Linked DNA regions of Homo sapiens: region 2 is linked to region 1. The links come from fine-mapping of genetic effects on gene expression. A gene starts in region 1. The other region holds a variant in brackets. All regions are shown on one strand. Distances are from middle to middle. Region 1 holds the start of PRPF40B (pre-mRNA processing factor 40B). Region 2 overlaps TMBIM6 (transmembrane BAX inhibitor motif containing 6).

What was found. PIP is the estimated chance that this variant, and not a neighbour inherited with it, causes the effect.
Region 2: its variant is the best candidate, but not a certain one, in a credible set for the expression of PRPF40B in whole blood (INTERVAL, PIP 0.70).

The regions. Positions count from the first base shown.
Region 1 is chr12:49,620,930-49,626,306 of GRCh38, forward strand. PRPF40B (pre-mRNA processing factor 40B) reads left to right here and starts at 2,632. Exons shown (of 26, transcript NM_001031698.3): 1 at 2,632-2,664. The coding sequence starts at 2,662. It also overlaps a transcript of FAM186B not described here. RefSeq lists silencers at 1,438-1,487, 2,348-2,847 and an enhancer at 1,678-1,767.
Region 2 is chr12:49,748,958-49,754,334 of GRCh38, forward strand. It overlaps TMBIM6 (transmembrane BAX inhibitor motif containing 6), which reads left to right. Exons shown (of 10, transcript NM_003217.3): 2 at 3,507-3,592; 3 at 4,016-4,124. The coding sequence starts at 3,537. Among named protein-coding and RNA genes, the nearest start is that of TMBIM6, 10 kb to the left of the region's middle. RefSeq lists an enhancer at 4,894-4,983. The variant A/G (reference allele first, on the strand shown) is at 2,646.

The DNA of each region.
Region 1 (5,377 bases):
TACAGAATGCCATTACACTTGTGAAATTCTCTTGTCTAACCTGAATTTACATTCCATGGTGATAACATGGTATATGTATTGTTATAAAAATAAGTGACCATGTCAAAAAAATAAAAAAAGAAAAGAAAAGCATAGAATATGGCAAATAAAAATCCCACAGAAGAGTGAGGCAGCCAGGCAAAGTGACTCACGCCTGTAATCCCAACACTTTGCCAGGTCGAGGCAGGCAGATCACTTGAGCTCAGGAGTTCAAGTCCAGCCTGGCCAGCATGGTGAAACCCCATCTCTACTAAAAATACAAAAATTCGCCGGGTGTGGTGGCGCATGCCTGGAGTCCCAGATACTTGGGAGGCTGAGGCAGGAGGATAGCTTGAACCCGGGTGGTAGAGGTTCAGTGAGCCACTGCACTCCAGCCTGGGCAACAAGAGCGAGACTCTGTCTCAAAACAAAACAACAACAACAAAAGAATGAGGCAAAGAACATGCCCAGGAGAATGAGAAAAGAGATGCCAGGTTGCCAGATGTGCAGCAAGGTGAGGGGATGAACAGTCAGATTGGAGAAGGTCAGCAGTCTCCAGCAGTGATGTCTTCAAGAAGATGAAATGGAGAGAATTCTCTGCTATATCTAGATATTCTGAGAGGAAATTTAAGCAACTGGGGGAAGAATTTGAGGTAGAGTTTGTGAGAAATACATAGAAAATAAATGATTTTAAAAAACAAGATTATTAATTCCAGGAAAAATAAAAGTTTGTGCAGGAAAAAACAGAAGGTCTCCCTGGGGAGGACAGACCCAAGGAGGAAGCTGGGCAGGGAATTCCAGGGTCCTAGGTATTCAGAATATGGTCTAATCCTGGGCAAGTGTGCTTTGCATGGGCAAATCCCCTTGGACCCCTTGCCCTGTGGGGAGGGCTGCAGCTGGGGGAAGGCCGGAGATGTGAAGGTAAATGCCAGAAGAAACAGCTAAAAGAGGTGAAAACGTTGCCTCCAGAGAGGGGAAGACGATGGGGGCAGGGCTCTGCTGTTTGTCTTAACAAATCTGGTACAATTATTCGATTCTATATGTGTGTACATGTTCTAAGAAATATTTCATTAAAGAAAAGAAAAGCATTTAAAAAATAAAAATGCAATTCATGAAAGTTCACGGAACCTCTGGACCACTTCTGCTATACTTAGAGATCTCAATAATAGTTTGAAAATCGCCCCAGCTGCGCTGGCATCGCGGCAGCCCCCGGGGGAAGGTGGGAGCGGTGGAGAGGCCGCCGGTGGTCCGTCCTCCTCCCCCCGCCCGCCCCCTCCATTCCCCTCTCCTGCCGCGGCGGCGGCTGCGGGCCGCGCGCCAGTCTCCTCACCCCACCTCCCCCAAAAGTTTGAAAACCACAGGACCCAGCGTGGGCAGTACAGGGAGACGTCGTCTCCAAAAAGTTACAAAATTAGCCGGGCGTTGTGGCACACGCCTGTAGTCCCAGCTACTCGGAGGCTGAGGGAGAAGGACCGGTTGAGACCAGGAGGCTGAGGCTGCAGTGAACCCTGATTGTGCCACTGCACTCCAGCCTGGGTGACAGATCAATACGCTGCCTCAAATAAGAAAAGAAAACCGCAGAGCTGGGCCTTCATTTGAGACCATGTGGGTATCATTTTGATTAAACCACAAAGCATTTTCTCTCTACAGCAGCCCACAAGGGTGAATCCCACTTCCTTTTCCTCCCAGGTGTCACCTCTAACTCTTCGTGTCAGGAGTTTTTCTACCTCTCCGGAGTTCTTTGGCTCTCAGGAACCTAGCACGGCATCACGCGAGTCCCGGCTCAGGTGAGGGGGGAATAAAGGGAACAGGAAGCGCCTTTTGCGGGGCTTTGCAGGCTGGCGGTCAGCGCCTTTCTGCACCCGTGTGCCTGGGGCCTGTCACTCTCCAGCCCCAAGGCCTTCAGCGCATTCCCCGCAGAGCTCCAGGTTACAGTTTCCTCAGCCGCACAGCAAGCATGTACCTCACATTTTTAACTTCTGTCAAAGAGTGGGCCCTGCTCTCATGAGTTCAGCGCTCAGTGGGAGCCAGGTCCCAAAAGTGAACTTCAGGGTCACGCGAGAAGCACGTGTACGCCCCACAAGGGCGTGATTTCGGGGATTTGTCTTTTTTTTTTTTTTTTTCCAAGCTGCTGTGTGCTCAGTCCCTGAGACAGACCCTGCCACCTCACAGGTGCTCAACAAATAGTTCTGGAGTTAACTAACTTAAAAGTACTGTAAAAGAGCTACACAGCAAATTAAATTCGCTGTGCAGCGCAAAGGCACCCTACACACTGCGTGAACGCTTCGGCTCCTGGAGCGCCGGCGACTGCGAAGCCAGGACGCAGGCAGCGGGGAGAGGCAGAGGCGCCGGCCCCCGACCGTCAGTCAGAGGCGGGAGCAGGCGTGCCCCGCCCCCCGGGGGGCGGACCCGGGACGCGGCGGCGCGGGGGCGGGGCCTGGTTCTCCGTGCCGGGGGGGCGGGGCCGGGACCGAACACACCGGGCCGGTTGGGGCCCCGCTCGCCGGCGGGAGCCACCGGAGCCCCGGCCACGAAGGGGTGCGACCCCCCGCCGGCCCCGCCCTCCCGGCTGCGGCCTGGCCAATCAGAGCGGCTCTTACTGGCGGGTGGGCTGAGCCGGCCCAGCTGCTCGGAGGCTCTGGCATGGTAACATCCCCGCGCGGGGGTGGAGGGGCTCGGGGCGGTCCCACAGCGCCCCCTGCGGCCCGGGCCGTGGCCGATGGGGCGGGGAGGCCGCTGGGGATAGCTGGGACCCCGGGGAGGGCGAGGGAGGCCAAGGGTGAGGGAAGAGAGCCCGGGAGGGGGGATGGGGGCGGGGACTGGGGGCGAAGGGGCGGGGGAGGCCATGATGGAGCCTGGCCGGGGGCGAAAGGTGCGAGAGTGGCGGGACTGGGTGAAGAGTGGGATTGGGAGAGGTGGGGGTGGGTTCGCGGAGAAAGATCGGGAAAGAAGAGAGAGGGCGGAGATGAGGGGACTGAGGGGACCAGGGGACAGGTGGGGACCAGTTTCCCCTCCTGGGATATTTGGTGTGCGACATGCCCTTCCCCCAGCCCCAGCGCCCGTTCCCTTTGGAAGCCTGGGTGCTCCTCAGACCACTTGGGGACTCCCTGCTTCACCTTCCTGCATTTGCAAGAGCTTGTCTCCTGAGGTGGAGAGGGGGCCTCTGAAGAAAGGGGCTCCCAGCCCAGGCCATCAACAAACTAACGACTCTGTGTGACCTTGGGCAAGTCACTACCTTTCTTTGGGCCTCAGATTTCCCATCAATTTTTTTAAAAAGGAAATGCATGAAAATTAAATCCCAGATCTCTTCCAGGGTCTAAATGAATAGGTTTTTGAGGAGGAAGTTTAGGAGAATGGGTTTGGTAGGGAAGCAAAGGAAAGGATGAAGATGGAGGCGAGGCCTTGGGCTGGGGCTGGAGAAATCCCCACGGGTGCGGGGGGATGGTAGACAGAAAGCCTGCCGGGCTGGGGCTGGCTAGCCTTATCCTGTTGGAGGGATGGAAGAACTCTAAGGAGAGGAGGAGGTTGAAACCTAACTCCACAATGATGGAGACCAAAAGTAACATTCGCTTCTTCAGAGGGAGAGTGATGAGATGGCAGGATCAGAAAGAAGCAACAGGGGCCGGGCGCGGTGGCTCATGCCTGTAATCCCAGCACTTTGGGAGGCCGAGGCGGGCGAATCACCTGAGGTCAGGAGTTGGAGACCAGCCTGACCAACATGGAGAAACCCTGTCTTTACTAAAAATACAAAATTAGGCGTGGTGGCCCATGCCTGTAATCCCAGCTACTCTGGAGGCTGAGGCAGAAGAATCACTTGAACCCGGGAGGCAGAGGTTGTGGTGAGCTGAGATCGCGCCATTGCACTCCAGTCTGGGCAACAAGAGCGAAGCTCTGTCTCAAAAAAAAAAAAAAAAAGCAACAGGAAGATACTTTCTAGTAAGGCAGATCTTTGGGGAGCAAGAGGAAGAGTAGGGCTGGTCCAGGAAAGTTGGAAACTAGGATGGTCTTTGAAACGGAAGGGCAGGTGCTGTTTGGGGCAGCTGAAGAAGGGCCGCAGGTAGATCACAGGGTAACCAGCTGGTCTCTCAGCCTTTTTTTTGATGATGGCTACCACTTTCTGAGAGATGTGCCTCCCAGCCTTCATCTTCAGGAAGTGGGAATGAGTCAGACCAAGCAGACCTTGGGAACACCTGGCTCGCTGAGGATTTCTGGATTGTGTAAGGATTGGGGTTAAAAAAGAAAAAAGGAAATGTATCTGAATGTAAGCAGTATCATCTGTGGCGCCATCATCCTTGCTGGGAGGCAGCTTTGTGAACTGGTTGAAAGCACAGGCTTTGGAGTCAGACTGCTTGGATTCCAAACCTGCCTCTCCCATTTAATGTCTTGGAACCTTGGTCAGGTTACTTAATCTCTGAACCTCAGTTTCTTTATCTGTAAAATGGGAATAATAACCTCTGAGATGGTTGCCAGGATTAAATGAGTGTTTGACACAGTATCTGGCTCATAATAAGTGCTCAGTAAATATTAGCTATTAGCTGTTATCATTCCCTCTTTCTGTTTTTTTTCCTACTGCCTCTCCATTCTTGTCCTTTTCTCCTTTTATTCTTCTGAGTGCTAAGTTCTGAGATGCCCCTTAGATGTGAAGTCCCAGAAGTATTGATTGCATCTTTGGTGGTGGGAAAGGGGTGGCCCCTCACTGGCCCAGGTGAACATATGATGATCAGATGATCAAGTGTCTCTTCATCATCTCTCAGCCCACAAATGTGTTTTTGTTCCAGGGAAGACACAGGATCTGCTTCTCTTTCAGCAACCATTTCTATATCCTTCCCTGTCACTAGTTAATGTCTTCATATTCTCACCCAGAAATAAAATAAGACCCAAAGTTTTATGGCACTGCAGCAGGTAGGAGAGGGACGGGGTGTTTCAGGAAAGCAGGGACACAACACGGGAAGCTCAGCGAAGGAAGGGCTTTGGAAGTTCTGTAGTAGTTTATGTTTATTCCATTGTTCTGTCCTCTGTGGGGAACTGTCCAGAATAGGCCAGTGTCTGAATCCTGGCCAGAGGTCTTCATCCCAAGTTGAAGATGACTGTATACAGTTAGCTTTATTAGGTTTTCTCATGCCAACATTTCAATCCAATTTCCTTTTTCCAAGCCACAAAGACTTCTGCCAAGCTACCTCTCTCTGTCACAGCCTGTATGTCAGAGAATTTATACAGATGTACATATGCACACGTGTATACACTGTTTTCAAAGTGCATTTTAGGATATTCCAGTATGCAAAAATCTAATAAGGTTAGAGATGAGACTGCATTTTATCACAGCACTTTGTGTGCAGGGCCCTGACTAAACACTTGGGGG
Region 2 (5,377 bases), 130 kb after region 1:
GGTACTGAATATAATACTTCAAGCTCTTAAGAGCTGATTGCTCCTAGAATGGAAAATACTTGATATGAGAGCTGCTATTTTTGAGTTAAGTGCAACTTAATCTTGTTTGGCTGAGTTTGCATATCGGCCATTGAAATGTAGGTATCTTTTCTGAGCTTCGCTAGTTGAAGCTAAGATTGAAACTTGGTAAGTTTATTTTATCTGGCAAAACTTGTCAGAACAGTTTGATCTCATTACTTATCTGTATATTCTTGTCTATTTGGAACAGCTCTAGAGCAAACTATCATATTTCTTTGATTCTAAGACCTATGTATTCCCTCTCACATTTTAACATTTCTGAAATTGTCATCTGTACATTGTGTCATATACATTAAATGTATACAGATGCTCCTCAAGACGGGGCTGCATCTGGAAAACCCCATCATAAGTTGAAAATACCGTAAGTTGAAAATGTAAGTCCTTTTCTTTTTGTAAGTCATTTTTGTTTTTTTTTGAAACGGAGTCTCGCTGTGTTGCCCAAGCTGGAGTACAGTGGTGTGATCTCGGCTTACTGCAACCTCCACCTCCTGGATTCAAGTGATTCTCCTGCCTCAGCCTCCCAAGTAGCTGGGACTACAGGGGCGTGCCTCTATGCCCAGATAATTTTTGTATTTTTTGTAGAGACAGGGTTTCGCCGTGTTGGCCAGACTGGTCTCGAACTCCTGACGTCAAAGTGATCCACCTGCCTCGGCCTCCCAAAGTACTGGGATTACAGGCGTGAGCCACTGTGCCCAACCTGTAAGTCATTTTTGAGTCAACGATATTTTTAATTTACAATGGGTGTATCCAGATGTAAGCCATCGCAAATCAAGGAGTGTACCGAATGAGTATCAATTTCTCCCAGTGATAGGTCAACCCTGGTAAGTCAGGGACCATCTGCTTTACCAGGTTTCTTTTTTTTCTCCATAAAGCTAATAAAATTGCTGTGCCCTTTTGCGTCTATAATATTTGGTAGTTACATGTTTTGTTTTAAATTTTGAAATACTGATATTGAAAAACAGAAGTTTTAGTTATTTTTTAATGATTTCAAACCACAAGCTTCTATTAAATCAAAGTGAAATTGCCGTTTGACATCTCATCCCCCTGCCCCAACCCACACAGCCTTTGATGGTTTTGGTTTTTCCATCAACAGTTGTTAAGAGAGAACCAGAAAGAGGCAGTCAGTACCCCCTGGGAAACGTCAGAGAAGTATCTGAGAAAGGGGAGTTTCTGCCATTCTCCCCTCGAACAGATTCCGCCAAGCAGGGTCTGGTTACATGAGCATTGCCTCTTTCTTAGAATCCCCTGGGCGTTTGAGGATCCACCCCGCTCCATCCCTTACCTTTCTTTAATTCTTGTAATTGGAAGCAAGAGGTTCTTTAGCATTGCTGTTGTGAATACTGAGAAACTTGGCTCTGAAAGTTGCTTCAGTATTATTGTAAGTGCTGTCTAGGGATGTCATTAGGGGTGTTAATGGGAAACCTTAAACAAAGACACTTTCCAGGTGCTGAATTCTGCCATGCTGTAAGTGTGCTCTCTAGAGGACATAGTCATATTCATCTTGGTTATGGAAGGCTGTGGTTGGCCTTGTAACAACCTGCAATAATTGCACCATCTAGATCAAGAGGGCCCAGATCCGTGTGACTCAGAGGAGAGAGCAACAACCTTAGTAGGTTCTGCAGCTTCTCACTGTATCTGTCCTTAAGAACAGAATTAACAAAAGTTCTGAGGTGAGTAGTGATGTTAATGAGAGAAGGAAAGAAGAAACCAGAGAAAGCAAGCCAGCCATTGTGATTGTTTCATTTGTGGGAGAGAGCCTCAGGAAGCAGATGATGTTTATATCTTTCCACTGGCCCAGGATTCCTTAGGAAATTTGTTTGGGGACTGTAACTTTTATTATTACCTAGATGAATTGTTCTGAGTGTTGGGCTGGGTGCTGATTAGAGTGCTTCATTCAGTAGGTGGCGTTTCACACAACTTTATGTTTGAATCCCTTCCTCCCTGCCCCTCCTTTTCTGGTAGATTTAAAATGGATGGGCATTATGGCCCTGATAGGAGTTTGGAGGATTTATATTTAGAAGAGATGAAAGTTCTTGACTGGATCTTTAGTACTGTAGATTGAACACGTTTACTTAGGATTGCATGTGAAATAGGGGAGGGAGCAAAACTTAAGAACTTGACTTTATGGTGTTGATATGATCTAACCTGGATATAGTTCAGTTTAAAAATGCCCTTTTTGACATTGGGACAGTTGGCAAAAATCTGAATAAGGTCTGCAGATTAGAAATAGTATTGCATTAGTATTAATATCCTGATTTTGATCATTGCTTTCAGGATATACACACTGAAGTGTTTAGGAGCACTGTGTCTGTATGGTTAGGGAAAAAATATTTTTACATCTGTCTATATATTGCTATATAGAAAGAAGATGAAGCAAATGTGAAATATTAGCATTTAGGAAATCTGGGTGAAGGTTGTACAGGAATTCTTTGTACTGTTCTAACCTTTCTGTAGGAAAGGTTCTGAAACTGTCAAAAAAATACCCCCCAAAAAATCCTCCTTTCTGCATAAATTCCTTTTTTATGGAGGTAGGAACCTCTCTTTTTTTAAAATTGTGAGTCCTTTTC[A/G]GTTCAGTTCTTAAATGTGTTAGGTTAAGAAAATTTGATACGCATATATTTAAAATGCAAGTCTTAATGCCAGACCCAGCTTTATAGTTTTTGTTTGTTTTGTTAAGACTAGTCAAAGTTTTGTTTTTTATCTTTGAGGTGCTGCTAGTGAGATAATTTTTTTTTTTTTTTTTTTTTTTGAGATGGACTCTTGCCCTGTTGCCCAGGCTGGAGTGCAGTGGCGTGTCTTGGCTCACTGCAGCCTCTGCCTCCCAGGTTCAAGCAATTCTTCTGTCTTAGGCTCCTGAGTAGCTGGGATTACAGGTGTGTGCCAACACACCCAGCTAATTTTTGTATTTTTAGTAGAGACAGGGTTTCACCATGTTGGCCAGGCTGGTCTCGAACTCCTGACCTCAGGTGATCCGCCCACCTCAGCCTCTCAGAAGTGCTGGGATTATAGGCCTCAGTGAGCCACTATGCCCAGCCAAGGGAATTCTTTAGCATCTTGAAACAATGACATAAAATTGCTTTATGTGCCAATGTCTAGGTTCCTTTAACTAGATTGTTAATTGAGAATTTCTTTTATAAACTTACTGCCTTTTAAAGTGGCAAATCACCTGAAAGAATAGAAATCAGATGATAGTAACAAAATAGTTTGAGGGAGAAGAAGATGCATTCAATTCCTCTGTCGTCTTTAAGATGGTTGACTATGATTGCAAATATATTGTAGGACACATAAAAATAAAAATGGTTGTGTTAGGGCTGTAGAATTTTAGGCAAGTTTTCATCTTTCTGAACTTACATGTTGCTTTTTTTTTTTTTTATAAGCTGTTCGTGTGATTCTGTATGACTTAATGACTCTAACCTTTCTTTATTCTGCAGAGTGGAGACTGCTGCACGGACTCTGGAACCATGAACATATTTGATCGAAAGATCAACTTTGATGCGCTTTTAAAATTTTCTCATATGTAAGTGTTTTGACCTTGACTGGTTTTGTACTGCATTTCTTTTCATATCTCTTTGTCCCTTTTCTGCATTTATAACTTTTGTGTGTATAAGCTAACAAATTAACTTGGCCAGAATCCAGAGGACCTGATGAAAATGTCCAAATTCTACACGTTGCTGTGTGGTTATTGGAAAGGCATTTATTCTAGTTTGGGTACTGATTATTCATAATTTTGGGCATTTGGTCTTCCTCAGCATTTAAGGTTCTGTTAACCTATTTTCAAAATATTATTTTTTATTGTAATATGCTTTCCTAAAAGTATTTCAAACTATTTGTAACAGAACTTTTACATATTCCCAGGAAGGGAAAGAGAGAAATGATTCTTCTTAGCTTAAATATGAGATTGATCTGGGACTGATTGCTCTTATTCACATTCTTTTCTTAGAACCCCGTCAACGCAGCAGCACCTGAAGAAGGTCTATGCAAGTTTTGCCCTTTGTATGTTTGTGGCGGCTGCAGGGGCCTATGTCCATATGGTCACTCATTTCATTCAGGTAAGAACGATTTTCTCTCCTGGTTGCTGTGGTACAAATTACATTAGGAAAAAACCAGCTCAGCAAGGTGGTCCAAGGGACCCTGTTCCTCTCTTTAATCTTTATCAGTAGTTTAGGATTTAAACTCAGACATTAAATCAGGACATGTAAAGCCATTTTAATTTTCTGGCAACTGTGCCCCCTCTAGATACCGAAAAACAGAATGCCTTAACCTTGGCACTGAATGGTGTGCTGCTGACGTACAAGACCCCCACCCACTGAGTAGGCGCATGGCATGCATGCTGGGATTCTTTGGCACAGAAGCTTTTTTATCTTTTCCTCCATTCTTCCTTTACAAAACTCTGATTGTGTGATTAACTATCAGGAGAGGCAGGATTGAGATCTTTTTAAGGAATTGACCTGTTTTATTTTCCGATAACTGTTGTCTGCATGGTTGGGTAAAAACCTTCAACAATTTGTTTTCCTGTATTGAGAGAGAATCTGGGTTTGGTCAGCAGGAGTAGAAGGTACAGTTTGAGGAATAACCAGAAAGTTTGAAGACTCCCTAACATAGTCTTGTGCCTTTGTAGAGTATTCCTTTTAGCATAAATGTAGAGGTGGGCCTCTGTTGGCATTTGCCACTGTTGAGAACTATCCTTATGTTCAGGCATCTCCTGGCAGGGATTGTGTGAAAAATTACTTTAGACACTCAAAGGATAGGGCTTTGATCGCTTGAGTTTTAGGCAAGGTTAGCCCTTAAATAATTTAGTAAAATACAGTCAATCCTTGTTATTCACAGACTCTATATTTGTGAATTCACCTACTCATTAAAATTTGTAACCCCAAAATCAATACTCATGGCACTTTTTTTTTTTTTTTTGAGACAGAGTCTCGCTCTGTTACTCATGGCACTTTTTGCAGACAGTCACAGAGTGGTGAAAAAGTTGAGTCACCCTGCTGTTGCAGTGTTTTCAGCTGAGGTTGAACAAGACAGTGCTCTGCCTTCTTGTTTCAGTTCTCGTATTGTAAACAAATGTTCTTTTCATGGTCATTTAGTGCCACTTCCTTTGTATTTTTGTGCTTTTAATTGGTGATTTTGCTGGGTTTTTTGAGTGGAGGTCTTGTGGTGTCGTCCTGACTGGTCTCAAACTCCTGGGCTCAATTGATCCTCGCACCTCAGCCTCCCAAGTAGCTGGGAATACAAGCACATGCCACCATGCTTGGCTTAATTTTGCTGTTCAGAATGCAAACAGCATAGTGCTGAAGTGCTGTCT